Homo sapiens: one gene and its partners. The main gene of each other region encodes a partner of the protein of the gene in region 3 in a complex. Each region holds a gene or a part of one and is shown on either strand. Other genes may lie near its edges. The genes, in order: EIF4EBP2, CYFIP1 and EIF4E. A codon is read from its position in the direction of its gene.

What was found.
Region 1: the proteins of EIF4E (region 3) and EIF4EBP2 are in contact, whole or in part, in a crystal structure (PDB 3AM7), measured with the Homo sapiens proteins. Residues at the interface, in NP_001959.1 of Homo sapiens: His37, Pro38, Leu39, Gln40, Val69, Trp73, Tyr76, Asn77, Leu131, Glu132, Leu135, Ile138, Gly139, Glu140, Ser141, Asp143, Asp144, Ser146, Asp147, Arg186 (codon at 2,351); in NP_004087.1 of Homo sapiens: Pro47, Thr50, Arg51, Ile52, Ile53, Tyr54, Arg56, Phe58, Leu59, Leu60, Arg62, Arg63, Asn64.
Region 2: EIF4E (region 3) and CYFIP1 share a complex: the UniProt entries of both Homo sapiens proteins name them as parts of the CYFIP1-EIF4E-FMR1 complex.

The regions. Positions count from the first base shown.
Region 1 is NC_000010.11:70,421,115-70,428,228, reverse strand, and holds part of EIF4EBP2 (eukaryotic translation initiation factor 4E-binding protein 2), read right to left. Parts: intron 6,514-7,114; coding exon 6,482-6,513; 3' UTR 1-6,481.
Region 2 is NC_000015.10:22,914,263-22,921,376, forward strand, and holds part of CYFIP1 (cytoplasmic FMR1-interacting protein 1), read right to left. Parts: intron 4,597-7,114; coding exon 4,430-4,596; intron 3,674-4,429; coding exon 3,526-3,673; intron 3,052-3,525; exon of another isoform or gene 2,750-3,051; coding exon of another isoform or gene 2,369-2,749; coding exon 2,215-2,368; intron 621-2,214; coding exon 464-620; intron 1-463. UniProt on the Homo sapiens protein: Component of the CYFIP1-EIF4E-FMR1 complex which binds to the mRNA cap and mediates translational repression. In the CYFIP1-EIF4E-FMR1 complex this subunit is an adapter between EIF4E and FMR1.
Region 3 is NC_000004.12:98,878,776-98,884,247, forward strand, and holds the end of EIF4E (eukaryotic translation initiation factor 4E), read right to left. Parts: intron 2,368-5,472; coding exon 2,253-2,367; 3' UTR 501-2,252; downstream 1-500. UniProt on the Homo sapiens protein: Acts in the cytoplasm to initiate and regulate protein synthesis and is required in the nucleus for export of a subset of mRNAs from the nucleus to the cytoplasm which promotes processes such as RNA capping, processing and splicing.

The DNA of each region.
Region 1 (7,114 bases), on a different chromosome or scaffold from region 3:
TCTGGGCTCTTCAAGACACCTTCTTTAAGGTTTACCCCTGGAGTAGCAGAGGGTCTCCTCACCCAGGTGGAAAGAGATGGGCTCCATCTGCAGATGAAGGAAAGGCACTGGCGCACAGCACTCAGCAATGTAGATACAGGCACCAGGTAGGAGCAGGATGGCTTACCCAGCAACCTGCCTCTTAGCTCCCTGCTAGTGTTCTTCCCTCCTCCCCAGTTTCCAGTTAAAAGTACCCTTGGCCTGGGCTTTAAAAAAAAAAAAAAAAAAAAGATTAAGCTGGAGAGAAAGGGGATACACTTGGGCAAGAATGGATATTTTGTGCTAGATTCATGGAATTTTCTAAGTGTCCAGGAGTTTTGGTTTTAAGCACCGGCAAGAGCTCCCTTTGGAAATTTCAGTGTGGCCAAATGATTATCAAGCATTGCAGCATCTCTGCCAGCCTCCCACCCTTAGAAAGGTGGCAGAGTGAGAGTTTAAATACCCTTGGAAATGTGTTTCATCTCAGTAATATTTCCACTGGGTATCCATGACATACAGTATGGTCTGCCAGGGCTGCAGGCAGAGAGCCATAAGCAAAGAGAATCCACAGACCCGCTGAACAGGGACTCAAGCCTTCTCCTAAATCTAAGCTTTGCCAAAAGGTTATCAACTTCCAGGACCAGCCTAGAGAAATAAATTTAAATTCCAGAGAGTAGGCTAGGTGATGTAAGTGACTGACTGAAAAAACAAGTATCAATAACTCTTAAAGTTTTCAGTTAGAAATTTCTGTAAGTTAGCCTCAAGAAACTCCACTACTAAACTGGAAAACCATGACTAGGAACAGGAAGCGGCCCTGGGGTAGAAGCATTCTAAAGAATTGTGACCCAACTGCATCAATATCTGATTTCATCTTTTATTAAAAGCTGAGAGTTAAAGAACTGTAGGGATAACTAAGTCCACCTCAAAGTCCAGACAGAAACTGCCCTCCCAAAGAAACAATGTTTCTTTAAAACAAATACCACACCTTCCCAGATATTATGGGTAGGTAAGTGACTAGGTTTTGCAGATTAATCTATAGCTGCCCATGTGCATGTAGTCCAGAAAACATGCCAAGAAGGAAGAGCTCTGAACCAGACACAGAAAGGCAGTGTGGCTTCCTCGCTCAAGGGGAATGCAAAGGGCTAAGAGCCCTGGCTTCAAGCAGCTGTTATCCTAGATGAGGAAAATGCAAACAGATTCAATCTCTGGGATATTGCTGCCAACATGCTAAGCCCTTCACCAGTTGCCTTGATTCGAAGCAGTTCCTCTATGTATACTGGCTAAATGATGGACTCCGGCAGTGAAACCCACATACTCAGCAGGCTGCATTCTAATGAGAATGAAGGAATTTAACTAATGGTGTTTGAGCTGGAAAGGTAAGGTCTGAGAGTCCCAGTGAGCTGGAAACCCAAAAAAAGAGAAGACCAATCCACCTCAAAATAAGAAAGAAAAACAAAATTCATTTAAAGGTACTCTAAAGATGAGTTCTTTACTTCTGGAAGAAGAATCCTTTTCTTATAGCTCCCTCAACAGCAATACTTCTTATCCAAGTATACTCTCAAGCAAGCAGGGCTACAGATAAGAAAATGCTGGGAAGAGGCAGAGCATAAATCCAAACAAGAATTTGCATCTTTGGCCAGGCGCGGTGGCTCGCGCCTGTAATCCCAGCACTTTGGGAGGCTGAGGTGGGCGGATCACTTGAGGCCAGGAGTTCGAGACCAGCCTGGCAAACATGATGAAACCCCATCTCTACTAAAAATATAGAAATAAAAATTAGCCAGGCATAGTGGTACATGCCTGTAATCCCAGCTACTCGGAAGGCTGAGGCAGGAGAAACACTTGAACCTGGGAAGCAGAGGCTGCAGTGAGCTGAGATCGCACCACTGCACTCCAGCACCCCAGCCTGGGCGACAGGGCGCAACTCTTGTCTCAGAAAAAAAGAAAGAAAGAAAGAAAGAAAAAGATATTGCATCTTTAAGGTCATCTGAAATCTCTAAAGACTTGGTTAGGAATGAGTGCCAGAAACACATAGCAGCCATTCACTAGAATGTCTTAAACTGAAAAACTTCATGTAAGTTTGTCTTTAGCATGAACACAAGACCAGTTATTTAAGAACACATTGCCATCAAGAAGCCCAGGAAGAAATGGGCATGCAGGGTTAACCTATGCACTGGATTTAGAGGAGCAATCAAGCATAGACATTTGTAATTCTCAGATGTTCTCTATTTTATTGAGTGGTTGCTTCCTGGGTGAGAGACCTGACCTGAGTCTGTTGAGACTGGAGAGACCAGGTACCAAGCACCGACTCTGGTGGGAACCTGGCTTCCTGATAACATCATCTATTTCACCTAAATGTGAACTGCTTTCTTTTCTTCAGCTCAATAGCTTAACATCTAATTCATGTTTGCTCCCTTTGCTGGACAATCCCCATTCCAAATAAGACAGGTTTAGTGGCTCGGCTGGAAGGCCCCAGTTCCTTTTGCTAACTCCTAGCTACAGGAAAATAAAAGTGGTAACTGAGTCTTACAGACACCAAGTCTAGGATGTGCAAATAAGCATACTTGAGCTGTTGGTAGTCAGGCATATTATTTTCTACTACTCCTGGGAATTGCCATGTCTTACCACCCCTCTCAAAACCAGCAGGTAGCTTTGGGGAGTTTGCCTTCTATCCCAGTTTGGCTATGCACATCTTGGAGAACTGTTTTTGATAGCAATCTATCTTTCAGCTTATCTAGATTAAACCTACCTCCCTGTTGACCTACTTTCATCCCCAGTTGGGGTGTGGTGCTTTTAAGATATGTCCATAAATTCTTTGCTACTGCTCCATTGGGGTAGAGGTATGTGTAATTCCTCTCTCCTTGAGTGCAGGCTGAACTTAGTGGCTTGCTTCTAACAACTAGGATAAGAAGTGACGGTGTGTCCTTTCCAAGACTATGTCTTAAAAGGCACTGCAGCTTTCTCCTGGCCCTGCCCCATGATCTCTGGAATCAGCTGCTCAGGGAGAAGCCAGGTGTCATGGTGTGAGGACACTCATGCTGCCCTACGCAGAGACCCACATGGGAAGAAACTGAGGCATCCTGCCAACGGCCACAAAGAGAGAACTTGGAAGTGGTTTCTCCAGCTCCAGCTGACTGCAGCCCCTGTTCAATCTTGACTGTAACTTCATGATACCATGGGCCAGAACCATCATGTTAAACTACTCCCAAATTCTTAACCCACAGAAACTGACAGATAATGTTTACTATTTTAACATACTAAATTTAGGGTAATTTTTTACACAGCAATAGATAACTAATACAGGTGGAAGGACAAAACTCTTGGCTTGGAAGCCCAATACCTAGAAAGCCAGCTTCTCTGTATCTGTGCCCTTGAAAATGCTGTACCTATTTAAACAGAATATGAGAACTGCTGAACTCAATAAACCACACTAAAAAGAAGACAGAATCATGACAATGCATGTCTGCTGTTGGAATTTGAAGGGAAGTCACTTCTCATTAAGCTCGATTGTCCGCCCAAGTATAGAAGCATGGGTTCCTCATAAAAAGAAAACTACAAATGGTCACTAAGATGTTAAGAGCTGTCTCAAAGTGGTAACTTAAGAGTGCTCCTTCTCTCTAAAAAACCCCGGACACATTATTCATTAAGGGTTTCATCTGTGAGGTTCCCTCCAAACATGCAGAGGTAAACCACTCAATGGACTCTGGCTTGTTCTAAAAATAATTCCATGAGGCATGACACAAAGGTATCATCTATTGAAAGTTTATCTCATGCCTTGTGAAATTATTTTTTAAATGCCAATTTATCTCCATAAGATAAAAGAAAGACTGTCTAGTAGTGGTGGCCTCTGGGAAAGAACTGCACCAAGCTGTAAGGAAGTCCTTGCAGAGAAGGGTAAGGGATTGAACAGCTGCTGCATTATACAGCTGACACTCCCAAGAAATACTAAAAACATGCCTTCTGATTAGGGGGTCACATGCAGAAGCTCCCCAAGACAGCAAGAAAAAGGAAAATGGCATCTTGATACTACTAAAGCTCATGCTTTAAATCCATTCCTCACCGTTCAGTGAGGAAGCCAAGTTTTCACACATAGCAATAAAGATCAAGAAGAGTTCACTCTTCTGCTCACTGACAGACTGACTAGCTGCTAGTTGGGTCAAATTCCACAGGATGCCAAGGCCAGTGTATGAAGAATGAAAAGCTTCATTCCCAAAGAATCAGGCTCCCCGGGGTACAAAGAGGTCCTGAGCATGCTTCTTATGTAAATTACAGAGCAACTTAGGTTTTTCCAAGAATATGTAAAATGAGACTTGGAGTTTAATTAAAAACAGAACAGGGATACATTAAACAAACAAACAAAAATTACTTTTCTGATTATCAATTTTTTTTGAGACTCAAAGCATCCCCAAAACATTGGAGATCCAGCTTATTCCTGAGACATCAACCATCACAAAAGGTTTTCACTCTGAACTATTCACATTTTTGTGGCAGAAAACAGAACAAAGTTCTGCAGACATCCTTCCTCTCTTTCTAAAATATATTCACAAACAGGGTCTTTTCATAGTTCAAAAGAAAAACAAACAGGTTTCTTTCTTGGCCAAATGGCCTGTTACTCTCACCCTGGGATCTGATTTCTTAATAAAAAAGTTCAGGGCACCAAATCCAACCAGAAATTCCCAGGACACCAGTGGCTACTTAACTATGAGGGGATGGATGCTTTTGTCTTTCTATGAGGGGAATCATTCTCCCGGGATTATTATGCTGCTCAACAGCCCCAGGACAGGTAGGTGGGAAGGAGGGTGAATGCAAAAGCGAAAGGGTCACAGAAAAGAATGAGGCTTTCTTGAACAACCCATAGCAAGGCAGAATGGTCCAGTTTTACAAACCACCCACTACAAACTCCAAACATGCACACCCAAAACTAGAGGGGAAAGGAAAGAGCTCCTGGGGGACTAGGGGAGACAAAAGATGGTGACATAGAACAGCAGACTTGCCTATGAACGTTTCTCAACTTCCTAACACTGGAAGATGTTTAATTAAAAAGTTGCTGTTCAAAATTGTACTGAAAACATATCTAAAAATAGGTCTGTAGTCATCTTAAAAATAAAAGGTCACTTCTCAGATAAGAGGAGTGACAGATATTCTCAGATACCAACACTTCAGGTATCTTTGATGTAAATTTGAAAAATGGCCTGGTAGAGAAAAAGGAAGGAAAGGAAGGAGAGAGGAAGAAAGTGAGGGAGGTAGGGAGAGAAATTCAGAGTACAACAGGAAAGGCAAGAAAACTGGGAGGAACACATTTTTTAAGCCCATGCTTATCTATCCCAGCAGCCAAACAAAGCAGATCCACAAAGGAAAAAAATGCAGTTCTTTTCTAAGAACATTCTGAAAATCAACTTCAAACTCAAAACATAAGAAACTGCAATCTAAGAACAACTACCACAATGCTCACTGGACTTAAAAATGACGACTGAGACCGGGTACTCAAATGGGTCAACGTTCTTCAGCGGTCATTCTTAGGCATTATCTGACAGAATACTATGATCAGGCCTTACCCACCAAGTGGAAGCTAAAGTGCCTCTATTACTTGGTATGGACCTGCTCTAGGAGCAGACAAAATCACTTTGCTTTCTTGAAGTACAAGAGGACTCTGCCAGCAACGAGATGCAAGCAGGGAGGAGTGGCAGAAGAAGAGCAAAACTGGTTACCAAGGGCTCTCTTCTGATGTACAGAGTTAAAAATATCTGCACAAATGCACTAAGTAAAAGAATGGGAAGATGAACTATAATACCAAAGACAGAAGACATTCCTCCCAGAGGAAAGAAAGGAAGTGGACCTCAAAACAGTGTCACAGGGTAACGCTACCAGAGTTGCACAAGCTGTGCTCTGTCCCGAGGGACGAATACCTCAAGGTAAAAGGGAAAGCAGCTCTCTTTTTATCATTTCCCCCTGCTGGTTTTAAAGACCCCAAGCCCAGACTCTTGCAACACTGAACCATAGGTGGGATACAGGGAGGAGAGACAGAGGGTAAGGAATATGAATGGTGTTAGGCCCACCAAGCTCTGTATCCCTTCCCCAGACTTCCCAGCCAGGCAGTTGTTGGTAGGTTGATATTTGATTTGGGACAAAATTACAGGGTATGAGGGTGGCTCTCAATAAAAAAACAACTAGGAAAGTCAGAGTTGAACTGTTTTCCTCTAAGGGCTGCTTAGCTCTACAGAAATACAGCAAGGGCCTTCAATCTAACCTGTTTAACTGGGAAGGGGAACAGGAGACAGGGAGAAGAAATGGTCAGATGAAGCTCATCTTCCCATCATTTGGCACCCAGAGGAAGACGGGGAGGTGGAGACTGTAATGGGGACTGCTGGTATTGCCTCTTCTGTCTTTTCACTGTTGATCCTATTGGCCAAATCAGGTGCACACAAGTATCAGTGTTGCTGCTTTTCTTCTAATCCTTGCAGGAGAGTCAGATGTCCATCTCGAACTGAGCATCATCCCCTAGTTAGGACCAATAAAATGAAGAGTTTAGCACGTACACAAAGAAGCATAACAGTTTTAACTGTCATTCCCTCTAAATGAGAGACAAAAAGTAATTCAAATTGTCCCACTCTCTGCTGCCTTAAAACAATTACTCTGCTTTGCTTTGGCTGGTCTTAATCTGAAAAATAAGAATGGCAGTCCCATCACCCATGGGGAGAAGTTTTGGGGAAAAGGACACAAGTGAAAACATCCCCATTGTCCCTTTGTCTTCAGGATGACTAAACAGCAGCTCTTGGGGAGCTCTTTGCCATCTCTCAGGGGAGCACATTCTTCTGGAGGCTTTGGACTTTGGCCCTGCTCCAAACTAACACTTTGTCCATTAAAAAACTCATCTGAAATATGACAAAGCGGAATGCTGGCCCCCATCTAGGGGTCACCAAGTGCAGTCCCTGAGGAATATTTCAGGAGCTGGCCACTCCTACCGCACCATTCTGCTTCTACAGTGATAAAGAAAAAAAGAATGTGTTGGAGGAGGGGTAATTTAGGTAAACCTTAAACGCAGTTCTGGAAAATAGAGGAAATAAACCATACCGCTTTTCCTCACACCATATAAAAGAAA
Region 2 (7,114 bases), on a different chromosome or scaffold from region 3:
CTCCCTGGTCCAGGCTGAGTCCCCGGGTCCCAGCCAGCACCCATGCAAAGTAGGAACGTGACTGGTTCTAGTGCCTGAGCTCTCAATTCCAGTCTGACACCAAGAAACTGGTTAGTTACTTGTATTAATCTCTAAAGCTTTACCCCAGGAAACATGATTTCTCTTTTTTTTTTTTTTATTTGGAGACAGGGTCTTGCTACGTGGCCAGGCTGGAATGCAGTGGTGCAATCCATAGCTCAATGCAGCCACAAATTTCTGTGGTAAAGCAATCCTCCCGCATCAGCCACCACACCAGGCTAAGTTTTCTCATTTTTGTAGAGACTGGGGTCTTGCTATTTTGCCCAGGCCCAGAAACTTGATTTCAAATACAATACTAAAAACAGTCCCGGCCTCTCCGCCACCTCCTCTGAGGACCCCCGGTCACCACACACAAAGGCTGGAGACAGGCCCGCAGGACACGCACTCCATCATCGATGCCTCCTTGGTCTCCAGGATGTGGTCCGTCAGGATCCAGGGCATCGACATCTCAATGGGGAACTGGATCCTCCTGCCCATGGTCAGCTCCAGGAAGAACTCTCGGAACCACAGCTGCGAAAGGTCACAGCACTGCTGCAGCGTTTCTGGGAGGGTTCAAACAACTCCATGTTATCTCCCGCAAGCAAAAAAAAACCTTTAGCAGAGATGACACAAGGGCTGTGTGCTGGGTGCCTGCTCCTCCTCGCTCAGCCCCAAGCCATGCAGCATGGACATGAGTGGGGAGGGGTCACCGGGGCCTTGCACTAGGGACAGGACCAGCTGGGCATAGCTGCAGGTAAAGCCACCTCATCAACCCTGTGAGCCCTTCAGTGGGATCCAGGGGGAAAGTGTCTTTTTTTTTTTTTTGAGACAGAGTCTATCTCACTCTGTCACCCAGGCTGGAGGTGAGTGGCGCGATCATAGCTTACTGCAGCCTTCAACTCCTGGGCTCAAGCGATCCTCCTGCCTCAGCCTCCCAAGTAGCTGAGAACACAGGCACGTGCCACCAACTGATTTTGTATTTTTTATAGAGATGGGGGTCTCGCCATGTTGCCCAGGCTGGTCTCAAACTCCCGAATTCAAGTGATTCTCCTGCCTTGGCTTCCCAAAGTGTTAGGATTAACAGGTATGAGCCACTGTGTCTTACCTAAAAATGTTCTTCTCAAAAGGAGACATAAAAACAGGACTTCTGGCTGGGCACAGTGGCTCACGCCTGTAATCCTAGCACTTTGGGAGGCCGAGGCGGGTGGATCACAAGGTCAGGAGTTTGAGACCAGCCTGGCCAACATGGTAAAACCCCATCTCTACTAAAAATACAAAAATTAGCCAGGCGCAGTGGTGAGCACCTATAATCCCAGCTACTTGGGAGGCTGAGGGAGGAGAATCTCTTGAACCTGGGAGGCGGAGCTTGCAGTGAGCTGAGATCGCCCCACTGTACTCTAGCCTGGGTGACAGAGCAAGACTTCGTCTCAACAAAAAACAAAACAAAAAAACAGGACTTCTTCACTTTCACTTAGGATAAAAACCAATGTCCAGGCTGCAGCATTAGAGGCACACTCAGGGAGGTCTGTCTAACGCAAAAATGAGACAGATTAAAAGAGCCCACACTCGAACTCCATCCTTTCATGGAGTTAACAGCAAAAGTGGTACTATTTCCTCCAATACCTCGCAGCACCCCAGCCAAGACAGCAGGGATCCTGTTCTGAGCAAGAGGTGGACAACGGAGGACTTGATGAGAACACGGGACAGACACACGGAGGGCAGAGAGCGCACCCACCGGTGGCCGGTCAAGGTGGCCGGGTGTCACCCAGGATGGGCTTGCCTGGCACAGGGCACCCGCCACCTTCCCCCCACGTCATGGTCTGCAAGGGCCATTTCTAGTATTTATCAATGCCTGTGTCTCAACTCAGGCACCAGATTACATTCGCCTGTTTCCAACCCCGCATGGGTTGAAAAGATTTTCTGTTCATGTCTCAGGGCCAGCCCGGGCTCCTCAGTTTATACCCTTGTAGGGACCACGCCCTGTGGAGCGAGCTCAGGCCAGGGACGTACAGCCACCGCCACAGAGGGCAGGACGAGTCACCGTCTGGGTGCACCAAGGGACGGGGTAGGGGGTGGTCAGGCGGGCGGAAGCATTCTAGACGGTGTTAGTGGTGTTAGGACATGCCAGGCCGGATGCTGCTCAGCAGTATCTCTTACCACTGAAATTTATCAAGTGAGTGTAGAAGAATGACTCTCGATGAAATTTTTCTATGTCCAATATGGTGGGCCCCTCAAGGCTACTTCTCAAGGTTTTCTTGGAACCACTTTTGTCTGCAATGAGGGACTCTAGCATGGTTCTCACCATGTAAAGCTGGATTATCCAAGGAAACATTTGTGGGGGAGAAAATATACATGGTACATTAGTTATGCCAAACTCAAAAAGCCCATGAGAGAAGGACTGCTCCGCTACGCCCTGGTCGGGAGGGCCCCGCACCAGCTCCCCGAGGGGTCCGGGTGCCTGTCTACGCGGCCACGTTGCTGCTGCTTTGGGGAAAGAACAACTTGTAGCGGAGCAGTTCGCCTCCGTGCCATAAACGTCAAGAGAAACAAATGATGTCTTACCACCAAAGGTTAAAAGGGGTAGGTAGGTGCACGACTGCCTCAGAAACGTGTTAACCGCATGCAAGAGCCTCTCCATGCCCAGAGACTTGAGCTGCCTGAGCAGCTCGGCAGAGCCCAAGGACTCGGCCATGGTGCGCACCAGGTAGAGCTAGACACGGACAGACAGGAGGGAGAGGCAGGAGAGAGACGTTAGTCACTCGACACACACACCCCAGGCAGGGACACGGGACGCACGCAGAGGGAGGCAGGGAGGGTGGCTGGCACCACGCACAGGCCGAGGGCCGTCCCCCTGACCCTCCTGCAGAGCCAGCAGCGTGCATTGCTGGTGACTTTCCAGAAGAGTGGCAGAAGAGATTAAAAGCCTCCGGCAGAGATGAGGGAGAAGACCAGCCCCAGGACGGAGGACAGACGCAGCGGTGTGGATTAAACCGGGTGTGAAAGTCGTGAGAAGCACCTCGGGGAGGCCTGAACACACCAGGAGAGAGGACAGTGGGCAGCTTAGGACCATGACACACGCAAGCAGCACCTCACAGTTTCCCACGCCCCATCTACAGTCATTTGCAGACCCAACGTAAAAATTATACAGACATTCAAACACCCATCAAGAAACACAGAATGAATACAGACACGTGGACTTGTGCCCACATTTTTGGGATGGGAGTTGAAATGGAGTCAGACTCCTTTTTAGTGCACATGACACATCTGACAATCAAGGCACGTCTCCTCACGCTCCCAACTCACTTGGGTGGGAAACAGAGGAGCAGCAGAAACCACAGGCGCCACTTTCTCTGCCTGAGCAGGCAGCGAGGACCTCATTTAACCCGGGCCTCACCAGCCCCACCCGCTCACAGCTCAGGGTGGGTCCCCCCAGGGAGAGGGTGCAGGCGGGGCTCAAGGGACGAGAACCTGAGTGCTGGAGGGTCCCACGGCGCGGCGTGGTACTTTTATGTCGAAGCCGCTCTTGGGGTCCTTCTCGCCCCGCAAGGCTGGGTCATTGAAGGGCTCATGCCCCGTCTCCCAGTCACACACGGTCTTCCTGATGGCCTGCAGGACACTGAACACCCCACCAAGTGATCAGCAAGGCCCAGAGGCCGAGACCTCCAGCCTCACAATCACACCATCTCCTCACCCAACTACAAGGCTCTCAGAACAGCCCCCATGAAAATACAAATTACTCTGGGGGCCATGGAGGGATGTGGTAATGGACCAGCTCAACAGGAAAGTTAAAAAGGAGTCTGCCTTCTGGAGAGTATTACTACCCCCAGAAGACTGCCCTGAGCTCCAGTTCGCATCTGTTAGCCCAGGGCAGCAGTGAGGTGGCTCTGAGTCATGCTGTGGGCAGGGAGAGGGCAGAACACAGCCTCCGCACGGAGCAGAGCTGGGCCCCGCCTGCCCGCAGCTGGCTGTCCCCAGTAACCAACAGGAATGTGAAGTCACCCACATGACCAGAGCCTGGCCATGTCTCTCGACTGGTTTGGAACACAGCCTCATCACCAACAGGGCTCCACCGTGCAGAGACCCCCATAAGGCACCATGCATGAACCACAGGCACCGCGAGCCTGGGATAAATGCACCTTGTCCCGGGGTCCTCAGACTCCCTAGACACTCGGCAGCTGACTTACTGTCCATTGTTTGGGTTAATAATTGGACCCATGCATTACTTTTAGAGGTAATTCACCAAGAGGGCATCTGAAGGTTGAAGATAAATATATTGAAATCATTTTTGAGAATTTAACGCTCCTGTTGTTTGAATCCAAGTTCATCCGAGGACGTGTGGGCACAGCGGGCACAGGGCGTGGGGAAGGCTGACCTCTGGATGACGTTCTTCTTCTTCTTGATGGCCTGCCGCAGCGGCTCCCTAAGGGTCACCTGGGAGAAGTCCTGCAGTGCGGCATAGACGGTGTGCCGGATGGCGTGGTTGAACACGCTCTCCATCCTGCCCATCAGCACCTGCAGGCCTTTGATCATGGCGATCACCTGCGGGGGACACAGCAACAGGGACGGCCCTTCTTAGGGATGGCACCAAGCCTCCTCTGCCTGGCACATGCCGGGGGCTGCTCCTCCTCGCCCACAGCACCTTACGCCCTCCCGCGTTCGTGCCCTGCAGCTGCCCTGCCCCAAAACGTCTTCTCCAAAGCCATAGTCAATGGAACTGTGCCCGCATCTGACTCCCCATCAGACCATGAGCACCTGGAGGACAGGGATGCATCTGACTCGAAACACACATGCATCCACCCCAGCACACCCTCCTGTGATGGAATTCAAATAGGAAAGAAGAAAAAGACTCAGGAAAGCAGGCATGATATTACTAGAAAAAGAAGTTACAAGAGGTTGTAGTCCAAATCCCATATTGTTCACAACAAAGGCGCAGTGAACTACCATTCACAGAAAAAGCCTGGAAGACTCTGATGGAACATAATTACATGACAAAGAGCTTCCAAAGGAATTCCTGGGACAGAAAAATGGTGCCAGGGCTCATTATTTCCCTGTTTCCAGACAGTAATTTTGTCATGACAGTGTGCTTTATTACTTTCTGAATAAACAATTGAAGGTCACAAACCAAGTATGACCTTTACAATTGCATGAGCTTTCTTACGGCTTTTGCCGTTTATAAATATTTCTACAGCCAACTTCATGATAGCTATGTGAGGCCTAGAAATCTCTCTGAAAGCAGCAAGTGAGGCAGAGCAAGACACACTTACCCCAAGTCCACCCTGCCGTGTGGATGTCTGACATATAAGACACCAAAGTGGAACATTTAATAGCACCAGTGAAACATAATTCACTTCTTTTTATCTTTTAACTAGAACGCTGTACCTAAGACTAATACATTTGGGAAAATCTTAACAACCCTTCTTTGGCCAGGCACAGTGGCTCACACCCATAATCCTGGCACTTTGGGAGGCTGAGGCGGGAGAATCACTTGAGACCAGAGTTCAAGATCAGCCCGAACAAAATGGCCAGACCCCATCTCTACAAAAAATTTAAAAATTAGCCAGGTGTGGTGGCATGAGCCTATAGTCCCAGCTACTCGGGAGGCTAAGCCAGGAGGATCACTTGAGCCTAGGAGTTCGAGGCTGCAGTGAGCCATGACTATGCCACTGCTCTCCAGCCTGGGTGACAGAGCGAGACCCTGTCTCAAAACAAAACAAAACAAAAACCCTACTTCAACATCTGAAAATGGTCTTCAGTCCACAGTAATAAAAAAAAACAAAAAACAAACAAACAAAAAAAACCTTTTGAAATTAAGTATTTGACAGATTCAAAATTAAGGCAGCTTTTTTTTTTTTTTTTTTTTTTTGAGACAGGGTCTCACTCTGTTGCCCAGACTGGAGTGCAGTGGCATGATCATAGCTCACTGCAGCCTTGAACTCCCAGGGTCAATCGATCCTCCTGCCTCAGCCTCCTGGGTAACTAGTTCTATAAGCATGCACTACCATGCTTGGCTAGGCATCTTCCTACTTTTATTAAATCTGTTGGTTTGAAGTTCACTTAGCAAGAACACAAATGTGTTTCCCCAAGGCTTCACACAGTCTCCCTCTATCACTTTCTGGTTTTATTCACACCTTTTGAGTTCCTCATTATGGCTTTATAAACAGCCTGATTCATGGGTAAATGAAGACGTGTCTGACAAGTACTTGAAACATGGCTTATATGATTTTGGTGCTTTTCTTTTTCATGAAATTTTCAGGTGGAAAAGTTGACAGTCTGCTTTTAATTCATCCTTCTATAACGTAAAGAATTTCCAAATAGACTGCTTTCATGTAAGACTCATGGTCTATATGCAATTAAAATAATGAAAATTTTAGAAAGGAAAAAGTCTGGAAGAAAACGCACCCAGCTGCTCAGCGCCATCTCTGTGATGGCGCCGCAGGCACTGTGCCTTCCTAATGCCATGCTTGTGTTTTCAGCATGCTTACTTTGGAAAACTGATGATTTTATATTGTTTTTCCAATCAACAAAAAAGAAAAGTTCTATTTAAAAAACCAAACGAGGAAAAACCCATTTAAGTGAACATAACAATCCTACATATTCACACTTACAGGAAGAAGGAAAAGGCAAGTTAACAGCAAACTGAGAGCTTTAGATGCACGCATTAGAAAACTAAAAAGGATAAAAATCATAATACTTATCAAACATTCATCACTAATTTATAGAAAACAGCAAAATAAACCCCCCCAAAATCGAAGAAAAATAACTAAAAGCACCCGGGCGCAGTGGCTCATGCCTGTAATCCCAGTATTTTGGGAGGCCGAGGCAGGCGGATCACAAGGTCAGGAGTTCGAGACCAGCCTGGCCAATATGGTGAAACCCCGTCTCTACTAAAAATACAAAAATTAGCCTGGTGTGGTGGTGCACACCTGTAGTCCCAGCTACTTGGGAGGCTAAGGCAGGAGAACTGCTTGAAACTGGGAGGTGGAGGTTGCAGTGAGCTGAGATGGCGTCACTACACTCCAGCCTAGGTGACACAGCGAGACTCTGTCTCAAAAATAAA
Region 3 (5,472 bases):
TTATTATCCTTTCTTGTCCCCAGGAAAAAGGTTTAAAATAACATCATGATTCTAAAATGGTAATACCAATAATCAAATGCTACACATCAGTTATTTCAAAAATTTAGAACTGTATACATTTAATGTGTTAATTCCTCCTTTGCACCTAAAAGCTGATGCTTAAAATTGGACTTCATCTTAGAATTAAGAAAATAGATCAATTTATAATAGATACACTACTTCAGTCCCACCCACTGCCAACATACCAGTAACATCATCACTTTTAAGTAAACTCTTGAAGTACTCAAAACTATACATATTGACATAGACAGTAAGTCACCTTAACCAATTACCCAAGTTTAACTAGCAGATATTATGTACAGTATGCTGAGATTATAATAAACACAGAATTCTGATTCAGTATTTCTAGAATACTGAACAAGAGGTGTTTGTGGCATTGAGAGTACTGTGATAACCTGTGGTACCCTTTAAACTGCTTTAAAATTTTACAATGAAATCAGTGCTATTAATTTCATGTTTATTTCATACAGGGTTTTTGTCAAGTTTATCAGTTTTAAAATGATTAAGTCATAATCACCATTCAAAGACAAATTTTCCTCTCAAAATAATAATTTCCATTCTGCTACCTACAGTTTGGCTTATCCTTTGGTCTGATAGCCATACTTCATCTCACAGGACTATACAAGTATGTACTATGTACAAAACATTTTCAAGTTTGCTTTCAAATGATACCTACAAAGAGTAGATCAAGTTTTCAAGTTTACAGAATACCATACTACAACAATTTACCACTATAAATATGTCTTAACACCTGTTTATTCCATTCTATTTAGATTGCAACACTAACAAGATTCTTAATGCATATGTCCCCACCACCTGTACTTTCCCTACACTATCATTTTGACACTTAACATAGAAACAACTCAATTCAGCAACCAAGTTTTACAACCACTGTTGCTACCAATCAAATGGTGATGCATCAGATCCCAATTCTCATGAGTATTAACATATTAAGAGAGTACATTATTTACCTAAGACTGAATGACTGTGCCTTACTTTATAAAAAAACAAAGATAGCCACATCAATTTAATTCCATATATATGATACTACCTATTCAATTTATTAAAAATTGTAATAAACATAATAATCAAACTAGTGCTCCAAACTTATGCTGTTCACATGGAAGACACCACAAAAGAAGACATAATATAGAGACTGCCTTGCAATAAGAAGTACAAATTCCTTCTATAAAGATGGAGAAATAAAAGGACAAATCTAGTTGTCTAAAAGACAATTCACTGTACACATTTTATTTACAGTTTTGTACACTGTCTTAATATGAATGGGACTGCTTTTCTACTTGAGCCATTTTTAACCAAAGCAAAATAACCTAAGTAATACAAAGTGTTAAAATACAGCATAAAGATACAAAAACAGACATACTAATTCTAGTTAGGAATGTAATTATGATGTTACATTTTTTATAATCCACAATTATGTTTAGGAAATCACACAAACATAGATCACTGATTTGAATGAAATGCATAAATTTGTAGCAAAGCTTTGTAGTTACAAAAAACAAAAAAAATTACCAAAGAATGCACAAAATTAATGTTTATTCCACCTTTGTGTCATATTCCTGGATCCTTCACCAATGTTACATGAGGAAAAAAACAAAAGCAAAACAAATGAAAAACTGAAATCAGAATCACTAATATTATCAAGTAGGGAAACAAATAAATTAAAATCTAGCAGCCATCAGCAAGAGTACAGCAAAGACAATGCTGTAAAAAGAAACAAAGAAAATTGCTAGAAAACTGTATGCATCATAATCTTTCAAACCAGCAAAATATGCTTCTGCATAAAATGGAACAACAGAATTTTTTTTCCTGTAAAGTATAGAAATGCCAAGTTGTTTTCTGACTATTGTGGATAGGTAAAATCTGTATGTAATTAATGGTAATTCTACTGAACTATTACAGAGTGGGCCAGGAACACATTTATGGATTCTGGGGATGTGTACTGTAATTCTTTGATTGGGATAGTGGAAACTCTAGCCAAAAAAAAAAAAAAAAATGAACACAGAAGTACAAGACAAAGGCGAATGAGACTTCTCTTATATCTGAGTAACATTAAGATGGAAATCAAATTTAAATGCAGTCCACTCTGCTTTTTGAAGAGGCTTTGGTTCAGCTCCCAAATCTCGATTGCTTGACGCAGTCTCCTATGAGAATACTCAGAAGGTGTCTTCTTAAACAACAAACCTATTTTTAGTGGTGGAGCCGCTCTTAGTAGCTGTGTCTGCGTGGGACTGATAACCAATCACTATCTTTGGAGGAAGTCCTAACCTTTCCTTGTATACCCTCCTAGAAGAAAAAAAAAAAGAAGAAGAAAAAAGTAGTCATTAACTTTTACTCACAAGAAATACATTTAAAAATTTAGGGTTATTAGTCTTTATATTAAAAAACATAGACTTGAGAATAAAATAGGAAATTAATTATACACCCTTTTCCTTTCAGCACAATTTACTCTTCATTTTTGCGATATTCTTGGTTAATTACTTTTAAAATATTTGAGAGCGAGTCAGGTATGTTATTACTAAATTACAGGAGCATTACTATATTATTATATTGTTATTTATTATGATACTATAATTATTACTAAATCAACAGTGAACAAAGTAAGGACAGTCCCTGAGCTGACTGCATTTATAGTCTAGTAGAGAAAACATAATCAAATAATCACAAATACATGACAGACCTGTATCACATGCATACTTAAAAACAGAAATCTGTAAAACAAACATGTTTCATTCTTTGATCTAAAATGTTACATTTCACGTCTGAACCCTAGCAAATATTGTATATTACTACACAAATTATATTAACCATACCTGTTATAAGACTGCACAAACAAAAACTAAACACTTTGAGGGAGATTAAACACTTCGAGGGAGTGAATGAAACACTTCGAGGGAGAATGTAATTTCTGCTTTACATACTAACTTTACAACCTAATTTTCAAGTAAGACATGACTCTATTGCAAGAATAAAATGGCACTTGTCATGAGTGCCAAAGAGTAAACATAAGGGCTGTGATACTGTATAACAAGGAGATTCTAATCTCATCTACAACATTAGAGAAGTCTTCCCCTTTAAATATCACGAGGTCAAAAGGATAATGTTAAGAGAATGAGCACATTTGAAAGCTGAGAAATAAAAATTAGGCTGTGTGGCTATGGCTTGTAAGTAAAGTGAACATGAGATAAAGCTGACAAGGTTTCAGAGGAAGATCACAGAGAGCTTCATAGGTCATCTTAAAAATTTGAATCTTTGGCTGGGCGCGGTGGCTCACGCCTGTAATCCCAGCACTTTGGGAGGCCGAGGCGGGCGGATCACGAGGTCAGGAGATCGAGACCATCCTGGCTAACATGGTGAAACCCCGCCTCTACTAAAAATACAAAAAATTAGCCGGGTGTGGTGGCAGGTGCCTGTAGTCCCAGCAACTCGGGAGGCTGAGGCAGGAGAATGGCGTGAACCTGGGAGGCAGAGCTTGCAGTGAGCTTGAGTGAGACTGTGCCACTGCACTCCAGCCTGGGTGACAGAGCAAGACTCCGTCTCAAAAAAAAAAAAAAAAAAGAAAAAAGAATCTTTAGGAAAAAAATAGTAAAAATTCAAAAATAAGCAAAAATCAAATAAAAATAAAGGAATAAAGATATTAATGGAGTTAAATCCTCCAACATGATACTAGGATAGGTTTTTTTTATACCTTCCAGAAGATTTACTACCTTCCCCCTAAAATAAGGTATTAAAAAGTAATTTTATGGTAACTAAAGTGTTAATTATCAAATTTGCATTATAATGCAATGCATTCCTTTCAATTATACTTAATTATTAAAAATGTCAAAAAGCAAGACCATTGAGTCATGCAAATTGGAAGGTTAAAAAAGAAAATCTTCGTTTGAAAATCTGAAGTCTTAATATACACTCAAAAACATTTAATATTGACAAAAATACAAAACTTCCGTAGGAAAAAAATTCTTAATTTAACTCATTTAAAAAAAAAAAAAGTAAATCCTCCAAAATTAGGTTTTGATGCTGGAAGAAACATTAAAATATGATGACAAATCAACTCTTTTCTCTTATGGAACCCCATATAGCATGAAATGTAGAAAATCCCTATACCTTTTGATCCAGAAATAAATTATGTTCACATAAAAATTTACATGGCTGAGAGCAATGGATCACGCCTGAAATCCCAGCACTTTGGGAGGCTGAGGCAGGTGGATGACTTGAGGCTAGGAGTTTGACACCAGCCTGGCCAACATGGCGAAACCCTGTCTCTACAAAAACTACTGCAGTGGTTCAGGCCTGTGGTCCCAGCTATTCAGGAGGCTGAGGCAAGAGAATCACTTGAACCCAAGAGGTGGAGGTTGCAGTGAGCTGACATCGCGCTACTGCACCCCAGCCTGGGCAACAGAGTGTGACTCTGTCTCAAAAAATTAATTAATTTTAAAAAGAAAAATTAATAATATTTGAAAAATCACAAAGGGGCAAACCAAACATTTTGACCACTGACTGACCAGCACTTAATTTTAACATAAAATTGTAAGTCAAATTTTTTTTTTTTTTTTTTTTTTTGTGAGACAGTCTCGCTCTGTCTCCCAGGCTGGAGCGCAGTGGCCCAATCTTGGCTCACTGCAAGCTCCGCCTCCCGGGTTCATGCCATTCTCCTGCCTCAGTCTCCCAAGTAGCTGGAACTACAGGCGCCCGCCACCACGCCCAGCTAATTGTTTTTTTTGTATTTTTAGTAGAGACGGGGTTTCACCGTGTTGGCCAGGATGGTCTCAATCTCCTGACCTTGTGATCCACCTGCCTCAGCCTCCCAAAGTGCTGCGATTACAGGTGTGAGCCACTGCGCCTGGTGTCAAATATTACTAATATAATTGAGGTAAAAAGAAATCTTAGAAAAAAAATGTCAGCTGGTTTAGCATGGTGGCTCACGCCTGTAATCTCAGCACTTTGAAAGGCTGAGGTGGCTTGATCAAGTCCAGGAGTTCATGACCAGTCTGGGCAACATGGCAAAACCTCTTCTCTACAAAAAATACAAGAAAATAGCCAGGTGTGGTCATACACACCTGTAGTTGCAGCTAATTGGGTGGCTGAGGTAGGAGTATCACCTGAGCCCAGGAGGTTGAGGCTGAAGTGAGCCATGACTGCACCACTGCACTCTTGCCTGAATAACACAGTGAGACCCTGTCTCAAAAAAAAAAAAAAAGCCACTTTTGCAAAGAATAAAATTTACAAAAAAAGGTTTAATAAAACCCTACATATGTGGGTTTTAAACATGGAACAAAAACCAAGATATGTTATATAAATTTTAATGAAAATTATACGTAGTAAACACACATGCTTTAAATGCACATATACTATTTGCCAATAATCACTGAATTATTATTATGAGCATACATT